Linked DNA regions of Homo sapiens: region 1 is linked to region 2. Evidence: fine-mapped QTL for protein levels in blood plasma. A gene starts in region 2. The other region holds a variant in brackets. All regions are shown on one strand. Distances are between the middles of the regions. Region 1 overlaps FAM20A (FAM20A golgi associated secretory pathway pseudokinase). Region 2 holds the start of FAM20A (FAM20A golgi associated secretory pathway pseudokinase).

The links. PIP is the chance, under the fine-mapping model, that this variant and not a neighbour inherited with it causes the effect. The UK Biobank Pharma Proteomics Project read protein levels with antibody pairs (Olink). The fine-mapping took linkage between variants from a reference panel, not from the people measured, so its PIPs are less certain.
Region 1: its variant is fine-mapped to the plasma level of the FAM20A protein (UK Biobank, PIP above 0.99).

The regions. Positions count from the first base shown.
Region 1 is chr17:68,533,585-68,541,895 of GRCh38, reverse strand. It overlaps FAM20A (FAM20A golgi associated secretory pathway pseudokinase), which reads left to right. Exons shown (of 11, transcript NM_017565.4): 8 at 938-1,047; 9 at 1,930-2,011; 10 at 2,500-2,559; 11 at 4,155-6,780. The coding sequence ends at 4,419. It also overlaps a transcript of PRKAR1A not described here. Among named protein-coding and RNA genes, the nearest start is that of PRKAR1A, 25 kb to the right of the region's middle. The variant G/A (reference allele first, on the strand shown) is at 1,255.
Region 2 is chr17:68,595,700-68,612,246 of GRCh38, reverse strand. It overlaps FAM20A (FAM20A golgi associated secretory pathway pseudokinase), which reads left to right and starts at 10,880. Exons shown (of 11, transcript NM_017565.4): 1 at 10,880-11,984. The coding sequence starts at 11,581.

The sequences.
Region 1 (8,311 bases), 66 kb after region 2:
CTGAAAAGCTGCCTCAATACTCCTTTGCCCCATTTCATATTGATCCTGGGATCAGCAGGCCTGGGTCTGTTCTCCCCTTTAGTTCATTTATTCAGTTCTAAAGAACCTTCCATATACCCAACACTAGGTGTTATGGGATACAGAAATGGAAGACTCAGACTCTCTCCTTGAGAAGCTCCTTGGTCTAGTGGGGAGAACAGACATGTAGCCAGATCACGAAAACACAGCACAGCACTTGCTATAACCAGGGAGCACACGAGAATCCCATGGGAGGGACACCTGGTTCCCGAGCAAGCCCTGGGAGACCAAGGACCTCACTGCTGTATCCCCAGGACCTAGCACCCTCCCTGGCACATAGCAGGTACTCCACACTAGCTGACTGAGTGAATCGATCCATCAGTCAAGCCGTCATGATCATCGTGGGAAAAGAAGTAACCAGGCAGAATTTCTGGAGGACATGACAGATCCTAAGGGACTCTGTGAAGGCTGAGAAGAGCCCTCGGATGAAAATGGGCATCGGAGCATTGTAGGCAGAAAACCATGTGTGAGAGAGAAAGGGCAGGAACAGCCCATGGAGGTGCTATGAGTGGCGCAGGGTCCAAGAGGCTTGGTGAGAGGGACTGTGGAGGGACGAGGAAGCAGGTGAGGGTCACTACCTCCTCCTTTCCTGCCTGCCCCGGCCTCTCCCCTCTGGCACACAGTATCCCAACCATGGGTTTAGTGTCCACCAGACTTAAAGGACCCAGGACCTTCTCACCACACGGAATATGCAGCCTTACGCGTCCTTGCCCAGGGCCTTTCTGAATTTTAGAAGCTGCCACCAGCCCAGGGCAGGATCAGGGAGGCAGGGATTGGGGGGGCAGGGGGAGGTGTGGGGAGACCCCCGACACCCTGCCATCTTGGCTTTTCCAGCCCCAGGACTTCTTCTCCCCCTCAGGTGGGAGGTCAATCCCCTTTACTGTGACACAGTGAAACAGATCTACCCGTACAACAACAGCCAGCGGCTCCTCAATGTCATCGACATGGCCATCTTCGACTTCTTGATAGGTAGGTCCCCACACGCAGGCCCCCAGCAGAAGTGGGCTCTGCTATGTGGCTAGGGTTCCCCGTGACCTTGAGCACAAACTTACAACCTGGTTCATGAGGACTGAGTAACTCTGCACCTCCCACAGCCTCAGAAGTGGCGGAGGTCCCAGAGGACAGAAGGTAACAGGCTCCCCTCTCTTCAAAGAACTGGAAGAAGCTCAAGGGGTC[G/A]TCACTCATAAGGCAGGCATCTCACCCTGCCACGGGCCTGAGTGGGCGTCAGATTGGAAGCTGTATGTTCACTTCACCAAGTGAGGGGAAACCAGGTAGGAAGGGAAGAAAGTACACAAATATGTAGCAGGGAGGGCCTCAGGCGAGGCCACGGACACACAAGACTAGTAATTCCACCTTCCAGGCCCACAGGGACTTCTAGGGAGACGAGACACTTATGAAGGTGGCCGTCATACAGGAGCTTAGGTCGGAAGCAAGTCAGACAGCTGGCTCATCATCGTGCCTTTCAGGAAGTTTAGCTGTGTCTGTTTACTATAACCAGGATCAGCTGAGGATCTCTGGGCTGAGGAAAGCCAATGTCAATACATACACGAGGTGAAAAGATGACTTTCTGCACATTCAAATCTCTGGCCAAAGGCTGGAGTAGGGGCAGGGGCAGGGGTGAAAGCCTTAGACTTGAAGCCAGTCCATTTAGGGTTTGCTTGTTTCGCTTCCTTCTCCCTCCTGCGGCTGCTTCACTGATGGCCCTGAGGAAATGACAGTGTGAGGCCCAGCTTCGTTCACACCCCTGTCTCTCAAGTGATGACAGGCCTCCGTTCCCTGGAGAGAACTCAGGTCAGGAGCACCTGTCCCCCTGGCCTGCTGGTTCCAGCTAAGTCCTCCCCTCCTTCACAGGGAATATGGACCGGCACCATTATGAGATGTTCACCAAGTTCGGGGATGATGGGTTCCTTATTCACCTTGACAACGCCAGAGGGTGAGCTTCCCCACGTGTGTTCAACAATCCCCTCTCCCAGATGTGCTGCTCTGTGCAGCCAGCTGCTCGGGGGAAACAGACGCCCTGCAAATGAGGGCCTCCACCACCACGTGCCTTGTCTCCTTCGAGCCCGGCTTCTTCCATTTCCTTCTTTCTCTTTACCTTTGCAAGAACCACTTGATCCTCCTCCAGCCTGAGAGCACTCGTGTGCCCTCTAGTGAAATAGGGTGAGGTTTTCGAGAGCAAGGTGCATCCTCAGTGGCTGGCCCTCTGCAGCTAGTGAATGAATGAAGGATTGCTTAGCTCTAACATCTCTGTACAGATGCTTTTGTGATCTGACTGGGGAGAGGGGCTGGAGAGGCAGCTGCCATGATCCCTGGCATTTTACCCCAATCTCTGATTCACAAAATGCTGAGAGGAGAGAGGAAGCCTCAGGGGAATGCAAAGGATGCTGCCGGCCACCCATAAAAGCCTGTTTCTCCTCCTAGGTTCGGACGACACTCCCATGATGAAATCTCCATCCTCTCGCCTCTCTCCCAGTGCTGCATGTAAGTTTTCCTGCAGCAGATAATACGGGCAAGTAACAGTTGTGACCCTTCATGCTGCTTGCAGCCAAGGTCTGAAGGGCTTCCAGTTTTCACTGGTCCAGGACGTAAGTGGGTAGAATGACATGAATCACCTTATTTCCTACACATTTGTGCACTGCATGACATCTCAGCCAATGACAGACTGCATATATGACGGTGGTCTCATAAGATTAATAATATGGTATTTTTACTGCATTTTACAGTTTTACTATCTTTTCTATGTTTATATACACAGCTATCCACCACTGTGTTGTAAAGGTTTTGTAGCCTACAAGCAGTTATCATATAGCCTAAGAGTGCAGGAGGCTACACCATCTAGGTTTGTGTGAGTACACTCTCTGATGTTCACACCGTGACAAAACCTGCGCTTAAGGATACATTTCTCAGAACATATCCCCATCACTAAGCGATTCATGACTGTACTACAACTATCAAAATTTCCCCCACAACGTTTTGTCTTTTTCATCCTTCCACATAGGATGAATTAGGATTTAATCCTTTAAACCTTTCAATTGCCAACTTTAATCGTTGACCCACTCAGATAATCACCTATTTTTGCAGTCTGCTGGGTTTTGATATTACTAATCAGACCTCTGCTTTGCCCAGCATTCATATCGGCTCATAAATATTACTACTTGATCACCATCTAAGCAAAACCCTGATTAAAGTCCTGTAAACCTGTGCAGACTGGAAGAAGGCACGAAGGCCCTTGCTTGGCCACCATTTCTCTAGAGAATGTCTAACTTACTTCCACACTTCTCCAGTGTTTCAGCCAGGCTTGTAAAATTGACCACCTGCTCAGCTGCAGTATGCAGAGCTAATTATAAATATGATATTCACACCTAGCAAAAACATCTCATTTGTTTCCAGCTGGAAAACTCGGAGTAGAGCATGAGTATTCCTCATCTATGTCTTAGGTTAATTTAAACATGCTTCCCTCTGGCCTCCCTTCCCTGCCTCCAGAGCAGGACTGGATGAGCAGTACCTGTTTTTGACAAAAGTCAATTAAGCTGCTTACACATCAGAGTCCAAGTCAGATTCCCACATAAAAAGAAACTGAAATCCTAAAGATGGGTCCTACCACATTTTCATCTCTGTGATTTTAAAATCTGACAAACAGAAATAAAGTTAGCAAGAAACAACTTAAAGGCTGGCAGTACTGGGGGATTTTGAGACAGCAAATAGCTCATCAATTCACCTACTAGAAACTTCTCCCATTAGCTTTAAATCTCCTTGAAAAATCCTAAGTATCACTTTGGTTTTGATTCCCTTAGCGTTGTCAGAGAAAATGCATATAGCCCAGCATCACCATTATTAGAGCACAAATGGCTATGCAGGCTCTTGACCAAATCGCAATTGGGCAAAGGACTGCAGGATACTGGATTTTGCCTTTCATTTGTTCCCTTTTTACCTGGTTTCCATTAAAATGTGCCTGAGAAGACACAAGGAGAGGCGCCAAGAGTATCAGCTACAACAGCTGTTTGTGGGGAAAGAAGTTCAGGCAAGTTATTTTCTTTACATTTGCTTATTTGGTTCCTGTAACTTTGTCTTTTCAGGATAAAAAAGAAAACACTTTTGCACCTGCAGCTGCTGGCCCAAGCTGACTACAGACTCAGCGATGTGATGCGAGAATCACTGCTGGAAGACCAGCTCAGCCCTGTCCTCACTGAACCCCACCTCCTTGCCCTGGATCGAAGGCTCCAAACCATCCTAAGGACAGTGGAGGGGTGCATAGTGGCCCATGGACAGCAGAGTGTCATAGTCGACGGCCCAGTGGAACAGTTGGCCCCAGACTCTGGCCAGGCTAACTTGACAAGCTAAGGGCTGGCAGAGTCCAGTTTCAGAAAATACGCCTGGAGCCAGAGCAGTCGACTCGAGTGCCGACCCTGCGTCCTCACTCCCACCTGTTACTGCTGGGAGTCAAGTCAGCTAGGAAGGAAGCAGGACATTTTCTCAAACAGCAAGTGGGGCCCATGGAACTGAATCTTTACTCCTTGGTGCACCGCTTCTGTCGTGCGTTGCCTTGCTCCGTTTTTCCCAAAAAGCACTGGCTTCATCAAGGCCACCGACGATCTCCTGAGTGCACTGGGAAATCTGGGTATAGGTCAGGCTTGGCAGCCTTGATCCCAGGAGAGTACTAATGGTAACAAGTCAAATAAAAGGACATCAAGTGGATACCTGACTTCTCAGGATCCTTATTCTAGCTACAAGTCAAAGATAACTCCTGGTCCAGACAAAACACCTGGCCTATCACAAGCTGACTAAAAATCTGCACTTTGGGCCAGCGCAGGCAACAGTAACTCTGACAGGTTCAAATTAGACCTCACACTTTCTACTCATATTCTAGTCACTGGACCCATCTGAATCAGTAATCCCTACTGCCCGGTCCTGGAGTAACTTCTTAGAGATATTATAACAAGTGGCAAAAATAAAAGAGGGATTTGCTAAGAATATCAGAAAAGGAGTGTTCCAATTTGAAGAGTATTACAATTGAAATAACATCAAATATGTCACACTAAGCAGCCAGTAACAGAATAAATAATTACAACGAAGGAAAAAAAAAGGAAAGTCCTCCAAGGTCAGGATGGCATGGGAACAGGCCTAGCAGGGACACAAGCCTGGAGTAAGGCAGGAAAAGAGCCAAGGCTGACTACAGCCCACCAACCACAATCTTCTTCCCTAAGACCCCAGGATTGTCCCCGGCCCATCCCCAAAAGAAGAAAGGGGCTATGTGGAAAGGTGAGGCCCTCTAGATGCCCCTCCCTGTGACGGCTGGCTCAAAAAAGACTAAGTCAGGTTTTTTATTGAAGCCTCCCTTAGAAGAAAGTGTAGTAGGGATTCCTTGTCTCCTCTACCTTCTCCCTGACTTGTTGATATCTGAAACTCCTTTTAATAGGAGGCTTTGTTTCTTATTCCATAATTAATGACCGAAAACACAAAGGACAGTAAGGTCTTCATTCCATGGAGTGACTAGTCAGTCAACAAAAGTAAAAATGCCTCATTTCATCAAATCAACTTTTCCAGTAAAGGCCAGAGTTCAAATACTGTAAGCATGAGAATAGAATGGAGCTGTCACTAAAGAGAGTACAAGGTCAAGAACCAGAAATGTCTCCAAGCTTTCTGCAGTGTGAGCAAAGATAGCCTCGACTGGACAAATAACACTTCTGACCCCGTGGTACCCCCACATGACTGGTATGCTGCCCCTGGACTTTGTGTCTCTCTAAAATCACTACCATTCACTGAGATCTGACCAGGTGAGGCACTCACCAACGCTACAGAAGCAACACACAGGTTTCCAATCCTCTCAAACACAGATACAACCCCCATCCTCCAATGTGCATGGAAGAACTTTAAATCTCAGAGAGAGTAAGCAAAATCACACAATTTAGTGGTTTAGACCTATTCCAAAGTCTTCTTTTCACTGTAACACAAAACCCAACAGTATCCCACCCAATTTATGAAGTCAAATTTGTTTGCTTAAAAAAAAAATCAGCTGGGCATGGGCTCACACCTGTAATCCCAGCACTTTGGGCCTAAACAGGCAGATCGCTTGGTCTCAGGAGCTCGAGACCAGCCTGGGTAACATGACAAAACCCTGTCTCTACAAAAAAATACAAAAAAAAAAAAATTTTTTTTTAAATCAACTCTTTAACAGAGAAACCTTAATCCCAAAGATTTCCTTAACTGTTGTGGCCCTACTGCAGCATAGGGCTCCCCACTTCATTCACTGTCTCTCCTGCTTCAAGATGTTTCTTCCCTGTGGATGAAGAACCAGGAGATCACACACAGAAATGGGAAAATATCTGGGTAAAAACATTCAAAGAATAGCACAAAATGGTTTGGGACTTCCAAATAAGACTCTCAGGAAAGCAGGCTACAGCTCTACCTCAAAACCCGCCACCTCCTATAACGAAGGACTGGTTTTCCAATGGCCTATATACACATTTTGCTGCACTCTACAAACAGAAAGCAATAGGCTTGAATTTCACCATGATATGTGGTACACCTACCTTATTATTCACTTATCTTTCAACCTTCCATTACTTTTTGATTAGTAACAAAATTAAGACTCATTTCTCAAAAATATCAGAAAACCAACCGTTTCATTCTTACTCGAGTTCTTCCAGCATGTTCATTTTGAACTGTTTACCTCCCATGAAATAAAAAGTCTCTTGACTCTGAGAACTTTTCAAGTTACTACTGACAGCAAACTAAAAAATGAACGGGAACTGTACTGATGGAAAGAGGCATTTGGAAGAATTCGTTTTAGCCTTCTCAAAAGCCAGGAAGACAATATGAGTTTGAATATTACAAAAAAATTAGTCATTCTCTTACGAGTTAGTTTTATGTTCCATAAAGTCACCACAAACACTGCATTGGCAAATACTGAACATTGCTCCTAGGGGAAATACAGGGTTAGGTTGCTGGGAGTCTCTAGTTACATTTTTATTGACCGATCAATACATAATCTTGCTGTGTGCGTGTTTTATGTTAACGCATGTTTAAGACACTTTATTTAATATATACTGATTCATTAACATTGTACTCATGGCAAACAGCACTGTAACCCAGACCTAAAAGAAACATCCAATATACATATTTTCTACATATGGCACAACACAGCCTTCTTTCACTTAGGAACACTAGTCAGCACTTCATCACTACACTTAGGGGCTTTTAATAGTGAAATCACCAACAACAAAAAAAATACAAAAATGCAAAAAAAAAAAAAAAAAAGGCACTAAAAAGACCCAAGAAAAGGACACTTATTCACAGTATGAAAGATGAGCATCCCTTTGTTCCACCTCAGTTGGGAACATGTGTGTTGGGAGGCTCAAACTTTTCACTTCCCAGCTCATGTCTGCAAAAGCCCTGTGACTATTGATTTTGGGGTTACAAATAAAGTTTAGCAAGTAGGTAAATTACAAATACAGAATCCATGAATGATAAGGATCAACAGTTAACTCATTTGAGATTAACGAAGATTAAAAAAAGCCCACCATCTAGTGGCAACCTTTAAAATCACACAGCTACTTAAGCAAAATTGGCAGAACTTTCACAAAATGAAAAAATCTTACTCAGTGGTTTTGGTTTTAGGTGTAGTCCAGATGAAGTCACAGCTCTGAACTTATGTCAAGAAACAAATGTTAGCGGTACATGTACATAACAATGCTGCTTTCTATGTAAAAATCACATAGCATAGGAAGGAAGAGATTTAAGAAATTCACATAGCTACAGCGTTTACTGATAGCTATTATAATAATACCTTTGGGAGACGGGCACGCTGGCTCACACCTGTAATGCTAGCACTTTGGGAGGCTAAGGTGGGCAAACTGAGCTTAGGAGTTCGAGACCAGCCTAGGCTACATGGCAAAACCCCACCTCTACTAAAAATACAAAAAACTAGCTGGGTGTGATGGCACACATCTGTAGTCCCAGCTATTCCAGAGGCTGAGGTACAAGAATCACTTGAATCTGGGAAGCAGAGAGGCTGCAGTGATCATGCCACTTCACTCTAGCCTGGGTGACAGAGTGAGACCATCTTAGATAGACAGATCGATAAATAGACAAATAGACAGATAAAAACGTACCTTTGGGGACAAATTAAATGGTTATCTAGCCATTGCTTCTTGATGTTGTCTTAGCCCATCTAAACATACACTGCCAGGGCCTAACATAAGTACAAAAGGTTCAGCTATTATTTGTGGTTAGA
Region 2 (16,547 bases):
GGAATACTAACAATTGTATACCTCCATAATGTAATTCTCCTTTTCCATTCCCTCAAAAATTACTGAGTGAAGACCTATGTTAATTTTCAAAGCTTTTTGGAGTCATTTCTATTTATTTTAGCTGTATTGACGTTCTGACACTGAACTTTGAGCCAGACCAAGATATTTATTTGTGTTACATTTGTTTAATGTTTGTCTCACCCACTAGCTGTGAATTCATACAGTGGATTAGGAGTTGCTAGAAAACAGTTATGATACTTTAAGACATGACATTCTAAAGACCCAAGAAGTCCCAGCTTCCCACCTTCTAAGAATAGCTGTACTGTCAAGGTAGTAAAAACTGAAACAGGGAAAACACATCTGTTGTTGTTCAGTCTGGCATGTAAAGCTCACATAATATATGCAAGAGTTCTGTTCAGATGAATTGCACAGTCTGAAAGCAGCCACGCATAAAATCTGTGAATTTCTTCCCCTTTTAAAATATAAACTCAGTTAATTTAAGTTGAAATTGCTCTTACACATATTCCTTGCCCTCTACCATGTATTTCCTTTAAAATAAAATAGAGCAAATTTCTTTGACTGCTGCTGCTTATTAACCTGCTTCACCTTAATGTCAAAGCCCAACGCTTTCTTTCAATGGTCTCTTTAAAAACCTAGAATAGTCCAGGATATGAGGTCACAAAATGAATCAAGTCAGATTTTTAATAAATATTGTAAATATGAAAAGTAAAGAGAATGAGTCATAACGTGATAGAGAATAATGTGACCAACATCCATATAGCACTACCCAACTTTGTCAAATTTTAACATTTTGTAATATATGCTTCAGATCTTTTTTCTAAGAAATCATTTCAGTTACTGCTGAAGCCCCATGTATAATCTTCAACAAGCACTTTTTTCTCACTTTAATTCCATATGTAATCACTGTGCTGAATTTGGTGTTTGCTAAGAACTGAATATCTGTGTTCTCCTCAAATTCATATGTTAAATCCCCAATTTGATGGTATTAAGGGGTGGGGTCTTTGGGAGGTGTCTCAGTATTTTAGTGTTGCTATAAAGAAATACTTGAGGCTGGGTGGTTTATAAAGAAAAGAAGTTTATTTGGCTCACAGTTCTGCAGACTATACAAGAAGTATGGCACCAACATCTGCTTCTGGTGAGGGCTTCAGGTTGCTTCCACTCATGGCAGAAGGTGAAAAGGAGCCAGTGTGTACAGAGATTACATGGCCATAGAGAGGAAGCAAAAGAGAGAGGGGAGGGAGATGCCAGGCTCTTTTTTAACAACCAGCTCTCCCGGAAACTAATAGAATGAGAACAGTCTTCCTTACCCTCCCAGACATTAATATATTCATGAAGGATATGCTCCCATTACACAAACACCTCCCATTAGGCCCCACTTCCAACAATGGGGATAAAATTTCAACACAAGATTTGGAGGGGTCAAACATCCAAATCATATCAAGGGGTAATTAGAGTATGAGGATGGGGCCCTCATAAATGGGATTAGTGCCCTTATTAGGGGATGAAAGGACCAATGCTCACTCTTTCTTCAGTGTGTGAGGATACAATGAAAAAAGGGCTATCTGCAAACCAGGAAGAGTGTCCCCATCAGACACTGGATCTGCCAGCACCTTGATGTTGGAATTACCAGTCTCCAGTACTGTGAAAAATAAATTTCTTTTATTTAAGCCACCCAATCTATGGTATATTTGTTATAGCAGCAGACTGACTAAGACAGTATTCATTATTCTCATGCATGTTTTTATAATTTTACCAATTTTTTGTTTGTTTCTTTTTCAGAGACAGGGTCTCCAGGCACTGGAGTGCAGTTGCATGATCATAGCTCACTATAACTTCAAACTCCTGGGCTCAAGATATCCTCCTGCCTCAACCTCCCATGTAGCTAGGACTACAGATGAACACCATTGCACCTGACTAATTTTTAAAATTTTTTGTAGAGAGGGGTCCTATTATGTTGCCCAGGCTGGTCTCAAACTCCTGGCCTCAAGTGATCCTCTCTCCTTGGCCTCCCATAGTGCTGGAGTAATAGGTGTAAGCCACTGTGCCTGGCCTAGTTTGCCAGTTTTGAAGGTTATCTAAATAGTATCATACTGCTACACACACACACACACACACACACCCCATATTCATGTTTTCTTACAACTTAAAGATGTATCTTTGCTGAGAAAATACAGTTGTACTTCCTTCATTTTAACTGCTCATTACATAATAATACCACAATTTATTAACATATTTCCCTATAGATGGATGTTTACTTTTTTGTGCAATTATTTGCTATTATGAGCCAGGCTACAGGCAAAATTCTTTTGGATGGAGGTATGCAACCTTTGTTTTTTATTTTATTTTATTTTGTTTTAACATAATTGAACAATAGGGCCAATAAAGTTGCCCTTTTTTTAATGTACAGTTCTGTCAGTTTTAACACATGGATGGATTCACATGACCACCATCATGATAAGGATATAGAATAGTTCCATCACCCAAAACAACTTCCTAATGCTGTACCTTTGTAGTCATACCTTCATCACGGTCCCTAATGCCTGGCAGCCAATGATCTATTCTCTGTCACCATAGCTTTTCCATTTCTAGGCTATCATATAAATGTAATCATACAATATGTAACCTTTTGAGACTGGATTCTATCACTCAGCATAATGCCTTTGAGATGCATCAATGCTGTCATGTATACCCATATTTTGTTCTTTGTTGTTTCTAAGTAGTATTCCATTGTATGATGTACAACAGTTTATCTATTTGCCCACTGAAGGACATATGCACTACTTAATGTTGGCAATTATTAATAAAGCTGCTATAAAACTTTCATAAGTAGGTTTTTATGCACACATAAGTTTTCAATTCATTTGAGTAAATACCTAGCAGTGGATTACTGGGTCATGTGGTAAGTACATGTTTATGTTTTCAGATGTTTGGAGATTTACCAGATATCTCTCTGTCATTTATTTCCAGTCTATTTCTATTATGAGCAGAGAGCACAGTTTGTAAGATTTGATTATATTAAATTTAAATGCTTGTTTTATAATGGAGGATATAGTCCATCTTGGTAAATGTCATGTACACTTAAAAATAATGTGTATTAGGCTGCTTTTGAGTGAAGTGTCCTATGAATGTTAAATTAGATTTAGTTGGCCAATAGTATTTTTCAGTTCTTCTATATCCTTGCTGATATTCTGTCTACTTGCTCTGTGAGTGGCAGAAAAAGAAACACTAAAGTCTTTAGCTATAACTGTTGAATTTTCCCATTTATCCTTTCAGTTTTATCAGTTTTACTTCATGTACTTTGAAGCTGTATTGTTAGAGGCATACACATTTAGAATTATTATGACTTCTTGGTATATTGTCTTTTTGATTGCTACTTTGAGTAATACTAATATAATTATGCCAGATTCTTTTTAATTAGTGTTTGCCTGATATGTCATTTTCTATCCTTTTAAGTTACCAGTGGTCATATATACACCGGGTTTCTTGTAGGCAGCATAACATTGAGTTGTTTTTTAATTCATTCTGAAAATCTCTGTCTTTTAATTGGTGTGTCTAGGCCATTTATATTTAATATAATTATCAGTATGTTTGCATTTAGGGCTACCATTTTATAATTTGTTTTCTGTTTATTTCCTATATTTTTGTTCTTCTTTCCCCTTTTCTGCTTTCTTTTGTATGATTTGGGTAATTTTAGTGTTTCATTTTAATATATTTATTATTTTTATTATGTCTCTCAGTATAGTTTTTAATTTTATTATATCTCTTAGTACAGTATAGTATTATAATCTAGGAATTATAACATATATACTTAATGTTTCTCAGCTATTTGGAATTAATATTTTACCACTTCAAGTGGAATGCAGAGTTCTTACCAACAAACAAGTCCCTTTACCCTCTTCCCTTCGTATTGTAGTGGTCATACGTATTACGTCTCTGTATACTGAATCTCTATCAGATAATGCTATAATTTTTGTCTTCAATTATTAGGTATATTTTGTAAAACTTAAGATGAGAAAAAATAATCTGTTATATCTACCAATATTTTCACCATTTCTGTTGCCCTTCCTTCATTCCTGATGTTCCAGGTTTCCCTCTGGTGGCAGTTGCCTTCCATCTGAAATCTTTCTTTAGCATTTTTGTTAGAGCAGGTCTGCTGGTGATTGTTTCTTTTAGTTTTCTTTCATCTAAGAATGTCTTTACCTCATTTTCACTCCTGAAGGAACTCAATGCTGGAAGAGAACTTTGAAATTGTCTACCACAAAATAGTTATTTACACGTGAGGCAAAGGAAGCCCAGAGACATTAATTAATTTGTCCCATGCCACCAAACTAGTTAATGACTGAGCCAAGATTACAGTGTAAGCTCCCTAACTCCCAATCCAGTGCTCTTACTCTTCCTACAAAATGCCTTGGTTTGCTTTCTCAAGTATTTGGTTTATACTGGAAATAAAGTTGTGTGAAAAGGTCTAGATTAATATATGCTTAGTAGAAAAAAAAGTAAAATTCTCATTCTTTAGAGCTGAAAAGGACATTAAAGATCATTCACTTCAGCGTTTCATGTTTCAAATGAGGCAACTGAGATCCAGGGAAGGTAGTTCAGTTTCCCAGGGGAAATTTACCAATAAGTACAGCCATGACTTTTTATAGCAAGATCACACTACATACCCATCATTTGTAAAGAACAGGCACTTATTTGTTTATTTGTGTTCCCCAGTAGCAATGATGGGGAAACACGTACTCTCTGTCTCTCTCTCTTTAGCGCCTTAGAACCTTATGACACAAGTTGGATGGCCAATGTTAGACAATGGATCCTACCTAGCCTATTTGGAATCAAATCTGTGACTTTGCTCTCATTAGCACTGTCCTTTCAACCAGTGATTCCCAAACTTCAATGTGTGTCAGAATCTTATAAGCTGGTAAGAATCAGCTTATTGAAAATGTACATTCCTGGCCCCACCTCCAAAAAATACTAGAACTATGGTGTGGCCCTGGAATTTGCATTTTTATAAGCACATCAGGTACTTCTGATCCACAGGCTGCACTTTGAGAAATCTCTGGCTTATGCTGAGGCATTATGTGTTGGTCACGATTAGAAAATTTTGGACTTTCTACCTCAGAATAAGGTGTTGAGTGCAATACTAAATCAGTTTCAGTTTCTTAAGTTCACTCCATTCTAGGTCTTCCATTTATAGTAATTTCAATTGCATCTCTTGCTGATTACTGAGACAGCTAGCAGGTAAAGGTAACATTCCTCACATGCATCTATACTATAATAAAAACTGTGAGGGACATAGATGTCTACATTTAGTTATTTCTTTATGTGTCTCTTACTTATTGGTTTTTCAATAGGATCAAGGCAATTTCCATTGATGTTCTAAGTAAACATCTACTGGGGCCAGGCACAGTGGCTCATGTCTGTAATCCCAACACTTTGGGAGGCTGAAACAGGCAGATAGCTTGAGCTCAGGAGTTGGAAACCAGCCTGAGCAACATGGTGAAATCCCATCTCTACCAAAAAAAAAAAAATTAGCCAGGCCTGATGGCATGAGCCTGTAGTCCCAGCTACTCAGGAGGCTGACAGGTGGGAGGATCACTTGAGGTCAGGAGTTCAAGGCTGCCATGAGCCAGATCACACTCTGCCACCCTGCACACCAGCCTGGATGACAGAGAAAAACCCTGTCTAAAGAAAAAAAAAACCATAACGGATGTTTAACTTAACACTTATGTAGATGTTCTAACTTAACACTTATCTTGAGCTAGATTATATACATTTATGTTCTTATTTTAAGTGCTCTTTTCCAAACCACTTCCCACCTCCATGTATGAACACACATAAACCCACAAACATCATTTATTCTGCAGGAATTTGTTAATTCTCATTTGCATGCCTTGCTGTGTCTAAGATCCTATGAAGACAGGAAAATAAAAAAGAAAACATGTTACCCTTGAACTCATGGAGTTATAGTCTAGTATAGAAAACTGCCTACACAAACAAAAAACAACTAGTCAAGTTCTAAGCAACACGGGAACATGGGCAAGATAAAAATAGAGTCTAACCTTCACAGATAGAGGAACTTGGTGTTTAAATGTTGACTCTATTGTTTTCATGATTTAACTCCTGCAAGTAGAGAGCTTGATATTTAGCTAGACTGAAAGGAAACACAACTGCCCTTTGCATTTGCTCCTCTTAATGCATGCAATGGCACAGATTGCTAATCTGCTCTGTGTACTACCTCATACTTTTTTCCCATTGGCTTGTGAGTACAGGTATAGCTGGACTCTCTGATGATCACAAGACTCTTGAAGGCAGGAAGGAATTGTGTCATATATTTCTTTATGTCTCCTACAGGGTCCAAAGCTATGTCATCTTATTGTAAACAATAATTTAGCCCCTACTGTATACTAGGCCATATGCGAGATTCTACAGTTGTAGAGATGGCCAATATCTCTGCCTTCACTCAGCAAACATTTCTTGAGCATTTCTCAAATGATAGGCCCCATCCTCAGAGCTCTGTGTACATATATAAGTAGCATTCTCCCTCTACACTCAGGAGTAGTGCTCCAGTGAAGATGGCAGACATGTGTACTGTGTAAATTTGCAATGGCTGCTGTAACAAAGTGCCACAAGCTGGGTGGCTTAAGCAACAGAAATTTATTGTCTCACAGTTCTAGAATTATAAATCCAAGGTCAAGGTGTCAGTAGAGTTGGACTCTTCTGAGGGCTGTGAGGGACAAATTTGTTCCATGCCTCTTACCTAGCTTCTTGTGTTTGCTGGCAGTCTTTGGTATTCCTTGGCTTATAGAAGAATTGCCCAATCTGTCTTTTATCTTCATAGGGCATTCTCCCTGTATGCATGTCTCTGTGTCCCAATTTCTCCTTTTTATAAGGACACAAGTCATATTGCATTAAGGGTCCACTCTACACTAGTACGCTATCAGCTTAACTAATTATTTCTACAACAACCCTATTTCCAAATAAGGTAACGTCCTGAAGTATTGGAGGTTAGGATTTCAACAAGTGAATTTGAGAGCAGGATATAGTCAACCCATAACACATACTAAAAAGGAAACCCAACATGGCCAACGTTGTAATAGGGGAACATATGAGGAGCTGTGGGGGCACATGAGAGCACAAGGCACTGAGTTTAATGGGTATGAAGACAAGCATCAGAGAAAAATTGGACAAGTGGCCAAAGCTTGGGTGGACTAATGGGTGTTTTCCAGGTGGGGAAAGGAGAAAGAGCTTTCGGTTAAAGACACATCTGTGAGAGGTTGTGTGGGGAAAAGCAAGAGAGATCAGATTGTTACTGTGTCTGTGTAGAAAGAAGTAGACATAGGAGACTCCATTTTGTTATGTACTAAGAAAAATTCTTCTGCCTTGAGATTCTGTGACCTTACCCCCAACCCCGTGCTCTCTGAAACATGTGCTGTGTCAACTCAGAGTTGAATGGATTAAGGGCGGTGCAAGATGTGGTTTGTTAAACAGATGCTTGAAGGCAGCATGCTCCTTAAGAGTCATCACCACTTCCTAATCTCAAGTACCCAGGGACACAAAAACTGCGGAAGGCCGCAGGGACCTCTGCCTAGGAAAGCCAGGTATTGTCCAAGGTTTCTCCCCATGTGAGAGTCTGAAATATGGCCTCGTGGGAAGGGAAAGACCTGACCGTCCCCCAGCCCGACACCCGTAAAGGGTCTGTGCTGAGGAGGATTAGTAAAAGAGGAAGGAATGTCTCTTGCAGTTGAGACAAGAGGAAGGCATCTGTCTCCTGCCTGTCCCTGGGCAATGGAATGTCTCGGTATAAAACCCGATTGTATGCTCCATCTACTGAGATAGGGAAAAACCGCCTTAGGGCTGGAGGTGGGACCTGCAGGCAGCAATACTGCTTTGTAAAGCATTGAGATGTTTATGTGTATGCATATCTAAAAGCACAGCACTTAATCCTTTACATTGTCTATGATGCAAAGACCTTTGTTAACGTGTTTGTCTGCTGACCCTCTCCCCACAATTGTCTTGTGACCCTGACACATCCCCCTCTTCGAGAAACACCCACAAATGATCAATAAATACTAAGGGAACTCAGAGGCTGGGGGGATCCTCCATATGCTGAATGCTGGTTCCCCGGGTCCCCTTATTTCTTTCTCTATACTTTGTCTCTGTGTCTTTTTCTTTCCTAAGTCTCTCGTTCCACCTTATGAGAAACACCCACAGGTGTGGAGGGGCAACCCACCCCTACAAGGTTGGAGCACTTGGGAATTGCAGAAAGTCTTGTGGGGTGAAGACGAAAGAGGGGGCATATAAAGAAGAAAGGAGGTAGAAGCCAGACCACGAAGAGCTGTGTCACAATGAGTGACCTAATCCAGCAACAAGGAGAAGCTCAGGGGGTTTTCAGGAGGAGAATATCCTGGTTGCCTCTGCATACTAGAAGTCTCACTCTGGCAAGAGTGTGTGTGGGCACTGAACTAAGGTACCATGGAAGCAGAGGGACCAGTTAGAAGCCTATTTGCAAGTATGAGCAAGAGATTATGAGGCTCTAGATACATCAAGATCAGTAGAGATGGAAAAGGAGGGAGGGGCTTCCAATGAAAGATTTTAAACAGAATGATGGGTCCCAGCAAACAGCAATTTAGGATACCTTCAGTGTGAACGGAGAGGATGTATGTGAGGCTGGCAAGTAAGCCAGGGCCCAAGACATGGAAGATCGGAGGAGCAGGAGAAGGCTCATTTCTAGGAGGGGTAAAGGTAGATTAGAGGCAAACCTGAGGAAGCCAACATCCTATTGGCCAATCCTACTGGTAGGATTTCCACTCTCCTATCCAGCTTCATTCACACTTAATATCTAACTCCCACATGCAGTTCTGCACTTGACTGTGACCTTTAAAGGGCATGGAAAATATGTTTACATAATTTCCAAGCAAGTTACACTATTGTTCCCTAAATTGGGGCCAGAAAAAAAAGAGTCTACTAAGCGAGTATGACCCCATGGGTTGAGGAGAATTGAAGTCACAAGACCTGCAGTGTCACCACATCCACGTCCTTTGCCAGCCGAGAAAAATGCGCATCAGTTTGCCACACAGTTACTGCAGTTACATCACCACCATTCAATGCCTGACTTCTTCATTCGCTTGCCATGACATCTAATTAAACACATTAGAAGTTGCAACGTCTCTCAGAAATTGGAAATCAGTTAAAATTTAATTCCAGATAAAAAGGAGGAGGTTCTAGAACCCCTCAAAATGCCCACCATCATACCCAGAGGAGTGGAGTAGCTGGGAATAGTACCGTCTTGGGCTTTTTCACTTGGACTGGGCACTCAGGCCACAATGTTATGCCCCTGAAAGCAGGTTCCTTCCTGCTATCTTCCTTTTCCATCCTTTTCTATTTTTGTCCTAGCGATGAGCAGTCTCTAACCAAGCCTAGTGTACTACAGGAACTAATAAGTAATCATAATGATAGCAAACACATATTTCACACTTATTTAGGATGAGTTAGGAGCTCTTCTAAGTAATTTATACATAGTCAAGTGCCACATAACATTTTAGTCAATGCAACAGTGGTCCCATAAGATTACAATACTGTATTTTTACTGTATGTTTCCTATGTTTAGACACACAAGTACTCACCACTGTGTTACAACTCCCTACAGCATTCAGTAGTCGCATGCTGTACAGGTTTGTACCTAGGATCAACAGGCTATGCCATGTAGCCTCCGTGTGTAGTAGGCTGAACCATCTAGGTTTGTGTAAGTACACCCTGATGTTCACACACACAGGAAAATTGCCTAAGGATGCATTTCTCAGACGTGACACATAATTGTACTTCAATTCATTTAAGTCTCATAATAACCTTAGGAGGTAGGTTCCATCATTATCTTCATTTACATTTGAGGAGACTGCAAAGTCCCGAAGAAATCTTACACTGAACCACGGGGAAAAGAACTCTGGTCTGAACCCACAAGTCAAAGTATGTCTGAGGGTTCTCAATTCCAGCAAGGGAAGGGAGGGGGTTAAAGAGTAGAACTAACTTACATGGGAAGCTTTGCTGCCTGGGCAAGCAGCTTCTGGTGGATTTCCTGAAATTCAGCAGGGTGGGGCCGCCTCTCCAATCAGACTTCACTTTACTATACTATGGGGTCATTAAATAGAGGAGCCAGGAGTTCAGGACTCCCTCCCTCTTCTTCAAAAGGAAAACTGGGTGTGGGGAGGGTACATTACCTCACAGAATATTGGAGAAAGCCTAAATGTGTCCTCCAGTGATTCATTTGGGTGGACTACTTTCACACCAAGCTAAACTCAAAAGTTCGGAGTGGGGTCATCAGGGCCCCTCCCTCCCTGAGTGCAAGAAACATTTCCTCTTTTTAAAGTACAGGCAGAGTTGGAATCAAACTCCTTCCAAACAGGAAATCAGCAAGATTCTAGGTAAAACTGATACCTTACTTTTAAAGGTCAAGCTCTTTCCTTCACCAAGAGCGTGTTTCCTGAGCACCTACTATGTGCCAGGCATGTGGTAGGTAGTTGTTATGAATCTTGATGTGCCCTGCGCTCTGCAGGGGGGCGGAGGTGGAAGGGAACACAAAGAAAGAACAGATACCAACACTGCCACCCCCGCCTCCCCCCACCCCCCCCCACACACTCATTTGGCAAAGCTTACAGGAAAAAAAGGGTTTTAGGGGGCTTGTGGTGGTTTTTTTTTCCCTAAAAATAATAGAAATGGTAAAAAGAGGCTTCGGACCCCTCGCGTGAGTCCCTTAAAGTGACTGGATTGAGACCTGGGCAGGGAAAGTGGGAGGCCCGAGCGAGGGGGAGGGCGCAGGCAGTGGGTGGGTGACAAGGTGCAAGGGCAGCGCCGGCTTCGGATCGGGAGTTGGCCGTCAGCTGCGCCAGAGGCAGGTGCCAGCGGAGAGTGGGTGGGGGTGCCGGCGCCAGGCCAGGCTCGGGGAGGCCCCGCGCTACCTCTGCCTCTAGGAGTCCAGGCGCACAGACAAGCTCCCCGGAGCCGCTCCTGCTTCGCCAACTCCCCACTCGCGCCGCCCGTGCCAGCCGCCGGCACTGGCGTCTCCGCCGCCCGCAGGAGGAGTCGCGGGAGCACTAGCAGCCGCCGCCGAGCGACAGCATCCTCAGGAGAGACGCCCCGGGCTTTGCAGCCGGCGGCCTCCGTCCGCCCTCCGCGGTCGCCCCCCGCCCCGTCGCCCGTCCGCCCGCGGTGGCAGCCGGCGCCGGCGCCCCGGGGCCCTTCACCTGCCGCGAGCGTCCGGGCGGGCGGGCGCACGGGAGAAAAGGCGCAAGAAGCGGGCACCCCGGGAACCCCATTCCCTCGGCTCACTCGGCGCGGAGAAGCGACGCCCGCTGACTCCGAGAGCCCCGGTGCTCCGTGCACCTGGTCCCCAAGTTGAGGAGCGACACCCCTCCACAGGGGACTAGCCCGCGCGGGGAGCATTCCGGTCTCACTGACCCCGGCCCACCCGCGGGACTCCAGGCACCTCTTCTGCCCGCACCCCGCGACCCCTCCCGGGACCCCGGAGACAGCCGGCCTGCCCCCGGCGTCCCCCTTGGCCAGCACGCCATGCCGGGGCTGCGCCGGGACCGCCTACTGACTCTGCTGCTGCTGGGCGCGCTGCTCTCCGCCGACCTCTACTTCCACCTCTGGCCCCAAGTACAGCGCCAGCTGCGGCCTCGGGAGCGCCCGCGGGGGTGCCCGTGCACCGGCCGCGCCTCCTCCCTGGCGCGGGACTCGGCCGCAGCTGCCTCGGACCCCGGCACGATCGTGCACAACTTTTCCCGAACCGAGCCCCGGACTGAACCGGCTGGCGGCAGCCACAGCGGGTCGAGCTCCAAGTTGCAGGCCCTCTTCGCCCACCCGCTGTACAACGTCCCGGAGGAGCCGCCTCTCCTGGGAGCCGAGGACTCGCTCCTGGCCAGCCAGGAGGCGCTGCGGTATTACCGGAGGAAGGTGGCCCGCTGGAACAGGTGAGGACCCCGCCCGGGACGCGGGAGAGCGGGCGCTCTGGCCGGGGCCTCCCCGCGCCCCAGTCTCGAGTTTCCTGACGCCCCCGGCCCAGGGCTGCAGCGGCTCCACCCACGGCTCCAGCCCTGGCGCTGGGCTTAGAGTGTGTTCCCCACCCGAACCCCACCAGCTGTTGCAGACCTCACAGTCCAGTCCCGGAGTCAGATAGTACGAGGAAAAAGTTTCTATTGCAGCCGCACAGCGAAGAAACGCTCTCAGCCCCTTCCCCTTGAGCGCCTGGGTCGTCGTTGAGCCCCACTCCTGCTCCCTCGTCCACTCCCGCTCCCTCGTCCGCTCCCAAACCCCACTCTCTGTCCTGATGTGGAGGAAAGCTGCCGCTGGACTTCGGGTTTCCAGAATGAGGCCCCAAACAGGGTGACTCCAGAGCTAGTTGAAATTCAGCACTTAACTGTGCTCTTTGGGTAAACCTGGGCGCCTTCCAGAAAGCATGTTTCTCCCCAAAACCCAGTTCTTTCCCTTTCCTTATTCCTCTGCCCAGTTTCAGAGATCACAAGGGGGTCATCTGAGGCAGGAAGTAAATGGTCAGTTCTCTGCCGCAGCCACCCCATTGTTCACATTTAAAACGCGGCTTGGGCCCATCCAGCAAGTATTAGAACTTGAAGGCACTTTTATCGTCTTGTATGATCCTGGTGATTTGGACTGACTTGGATCTGCGGCTTGATGCTTCCACAGACGAGAAAAAAATCTTTCAGGGAATTTTTTAAACCCAAAGCAAAATACAGAGGAAAAAATATCAAATATATTTAGGATAAAATTAAGAATCTTTCTGGAAAAGGATGGGGGTGTTAGGGAAGGCAGCACGCTCATTACTGAGATCCCTTGCTAGTGGCAGGAAGCCTTCGTATGAGTTAAGGACTCTGTTTTGAAGTACAGAACTTGTCTAAATACCACTCACATGCAGAGTTCACTATCGCACCACACCCATCTCTTTACTTAATACAAGAGATTTCAAAGTAAGATGTCATCGGTGGTTTTATGGTCCCTCCAGAGGATGAGCAGACCATAAATCTCTCTTGAAACTCAGAGCTGGGCCAATTTAACTGTTTGCTCATTATTTTGTAATGCTGAGATTGAAGGGAGAAAAAAAAACCTTCAGAAATTTTTGCAAAGGAATAAGTTGAGTTGTTGGCTGAATCACTGTGGTGAATTTCAGTAGTAACTCTACGGCTCACATTTTATGTTAGAAAGAAAGTGATTCTCAATTCCACGTTAACTGTGTGCAGTAATAAAAGGCAGTTTGAGATTGCTTCTCAGACACTGTCATTTTCAATATTATCTTTATTTCGTCAATAACATGGAAGTCTGGCTTAGTGAACCAGGAAATTTTGCCCTTAGAAAAAGTATCTATATGTCTACTATGGATCTGAGAATGAGAGACTTTGGACAAAGTCACTTGCTTTTGTAAATGTGATCAGCATTCATTTAGTCACATTTCTGTGGTCTTAAACTTCCCGGTGTTACTTTGGACCCGAAGCAAAGTCCAGGGGAATATTATGGCAGAAAAGCAAAAATCTTTCTCACCAAACTGTTCTACAATCAGTTTTAAGCTTGATTTCTACACCATTATGTGTCAACAAAGACAAAAAAAACTCGCAAAAACACACATACTTTCTGACCAGAAATGATCTTGGTCATTTAACAGAAGATCAAGTGGGGGCTGGTGACCTTACTATATTCAGAGATCACAGAGTAGTTTTGTGTGGTTGCTCAAATGTGACATTTTCCCAAGTAAGGTTTGTGGGCCACAACAGGAGGACCCGCTGCACTTATAAATGTTAAAACTGGACCTCAGAGGCAGAGAACACTCTCCTTCCACCCAAACTGGATAGTAAATGTTAACATGAACATATTAATAAGCAGATGTGTTGTTACTTATATCAGGGTTAAAAATGAAACACAAGGCCGGGCAGGGTGGCTCACACCTGTAATCGCAACATTTTGGGAGGCAGAGGCAGAGGGAGGATCACTTGAGCCCAGGAGTTCAAGATGAGCTTGGGCAACATAGTAAGATGTCGTCTCAAAAAACAAACAAAAAAAATAGCCAGTGGTGACACATACCTGTAGTCCTAGTCACTTGAGGGACTGAGACAGAAGGATTGCTTGAGCCCAGAAGGTTGAGGCTGCAGTGAGCCATGACTGTGCCACTGCACTCCAGCTTAGGTGACAGTGAAACCTTGCCTCAGAAAAAAAAAAAAAAAAAACCATACAGAAGATTCATTAGCCAGGGTGAATTTGAGCCACACTCAGAGTTCTATTGTGAAAGGGAGTCACTCATTACCTTAAATGAGAGTGCTCCCTGCCAAATATGAGGATGTAGCAGTGCTGATGAAGACAGGGGGCCTGCCATTATGTGCAGGGTCGAGGACACCCCTAGATCCTAGCAGCAGACAAATAAATAGAATGGACAGCAGAGGAAGAAACAATGAAGGACCTTGCTAATTGTTTTTCTCTTCACAGACAAGCTCTCCTTGTTTGTAGCCCTGCCAATATTTAAAATCTAGTGATTTATAAACATATGAGGGCCAGGCACAGTGGCTCACACTGGTAATCCCAGCACTTTGGGAGGCTGAGGCAGGCAGATCACCTGAGGTCAGGCGTTCAAGACCAAACTGGTCAACATGGTGAAATCCCATCTCTATTAAAAATACAAAAATTAGTTGGGCATGGTGGTGGGCACCTGTAATCCCAGCTACTCAGGAGGCTGCGGCAGAAGAATCACTTGAACCCAGGAGGTGGAAGTTGCAGTCAGCAGAGATCGTGCCACTCTACTCCAGCCTGGGCAACACAGTGAGATTCCATCTCAAAAAAAAAAAATGTGGATGCCTCCATGCCAATACCTAACATGAAGTCCTATCCAAAATAATTGTATCAGCAAACTGTCCACCACACCAGGAGAAGTACAGAGAATAAAATAAGCCAAATCAGTGTTCTTCGCCACTTGCCCACAAGAGACCATTAGTCTGAGTGATTTTTTTTTTTTTTTGTAATTTTGACCATCATACTAATAAGAAATGGTATGAAGTCAGAAAGTATCCTTCCACAATTCAAGCTCATTACCAATAAGAGGTAGGTTATGGTGTGTCTCCCCACCTCCCCACTCACCCACACGTTCCTTTTTGATTTCACACAATGGAAGATGACATTTGTGCAGTTTTGAATGTCTTGGGTTTTTAATTAATATTTGTTCACTGGATGTCAACATTTAGACATGTAGTTAAGTTACAAATGGGAAGATGTGTTGATTTTTAAGGTGGGCTGTCTGTGTGCTATCTGGCCCTGAAGCTTTCTGCAAACCTCCTTCACTCACTGTTCTTCCCTCCCTTCCTTTCTTTTCCCCCCAAAAATGTAACTAAGTGTGGCACAATCCAAGTTAAAAATGTAATTAGGGAAAGTGTTTCTGTCAGGTGGTCAGCTGCTGATCACAGCCAGCCAGCCAACGCCAGGCTCCATCAAGCATGATGACACATTTGGCACCTGTATTGAACAGTGACGAGGAAAGTGCACAGGGAAGAAGGGAAATGAAGTCTTCACTTTCAGGCCATACACTAACAAGCCAGAATTGTGCTGCTCTTAGTCCTTTGCTTGAATAAGTGATGACGCAGGGCAGGCAGGCTTTACCTGGAGCACAGGTGATGGTTCACACTGTTGCTCGCCTTTGCATTCTTAGATACTGAGCTTTGGATTTCTTCTCTGGCCCACAAGCTGCCCAAGTCAGACAACATCTGTCTTTTGACGTGTCAAACTGATCAGCTTGGCCAGTTTTGCCCACATATGATTGGCCTTTTGGCCACATATCTTTGGTCAGTCTCTCTGTAACCCTCTGGTCTCGACAGGCAAGGTCAAACAGGGTCAGCTCTCCCTAATGTAGAAACCCCAGCAGCTATAACACAAATATGAGTTTTTGCTTTTCTTTCTTGACATCTTCCTCAGATGTCAGGAAGGTTATATTGTCTTGCAATTACAGATTCAGCATTTCTTAGGGGTGTGTGTGTGTGTGTGTGTGGTTTCCCACATCAGAAACTCCTGTCTTCTTCACCCCTCCTCCTACCTATTGCTGTCACTGAAAGAAAACCTAGTCCTGGGTCTCTCTTTGAAAATCACCGCAAAGAGACTGGGCAGCTTTTCAAAAATGACAGTTGGTCAAAGGGAGTAAGTTGGCTGAAGTTTTTCTGGGGGATGCTTTGAGAAGATCCAGAAGCCAAGGCAGATAGAGGAGAAGGGTGGAGAAGAAGTCAGGAGAGATGAAAAGGAATTCAGCTAGAAATAAGAATTGCCTCGTCTAGGAGCTTGGGGAAGATAAGCTCCTCCCTGCCCCAGCTCCCCCATGGCATCTGTGGAAGGAAAAATACAATCTCTCCATTCTCACTCCCATCTTTTTATCTCTGTCCTGCTTATTTTGTGCCTGCCCTAGAACGCTCTGAACCTAGATTTCTTGTGAGCAGGCAATTCAACCCGCAGGCTGGATGAAAGTCCAGGTTCTTACTCATGGATGGTGGCCATTTGCT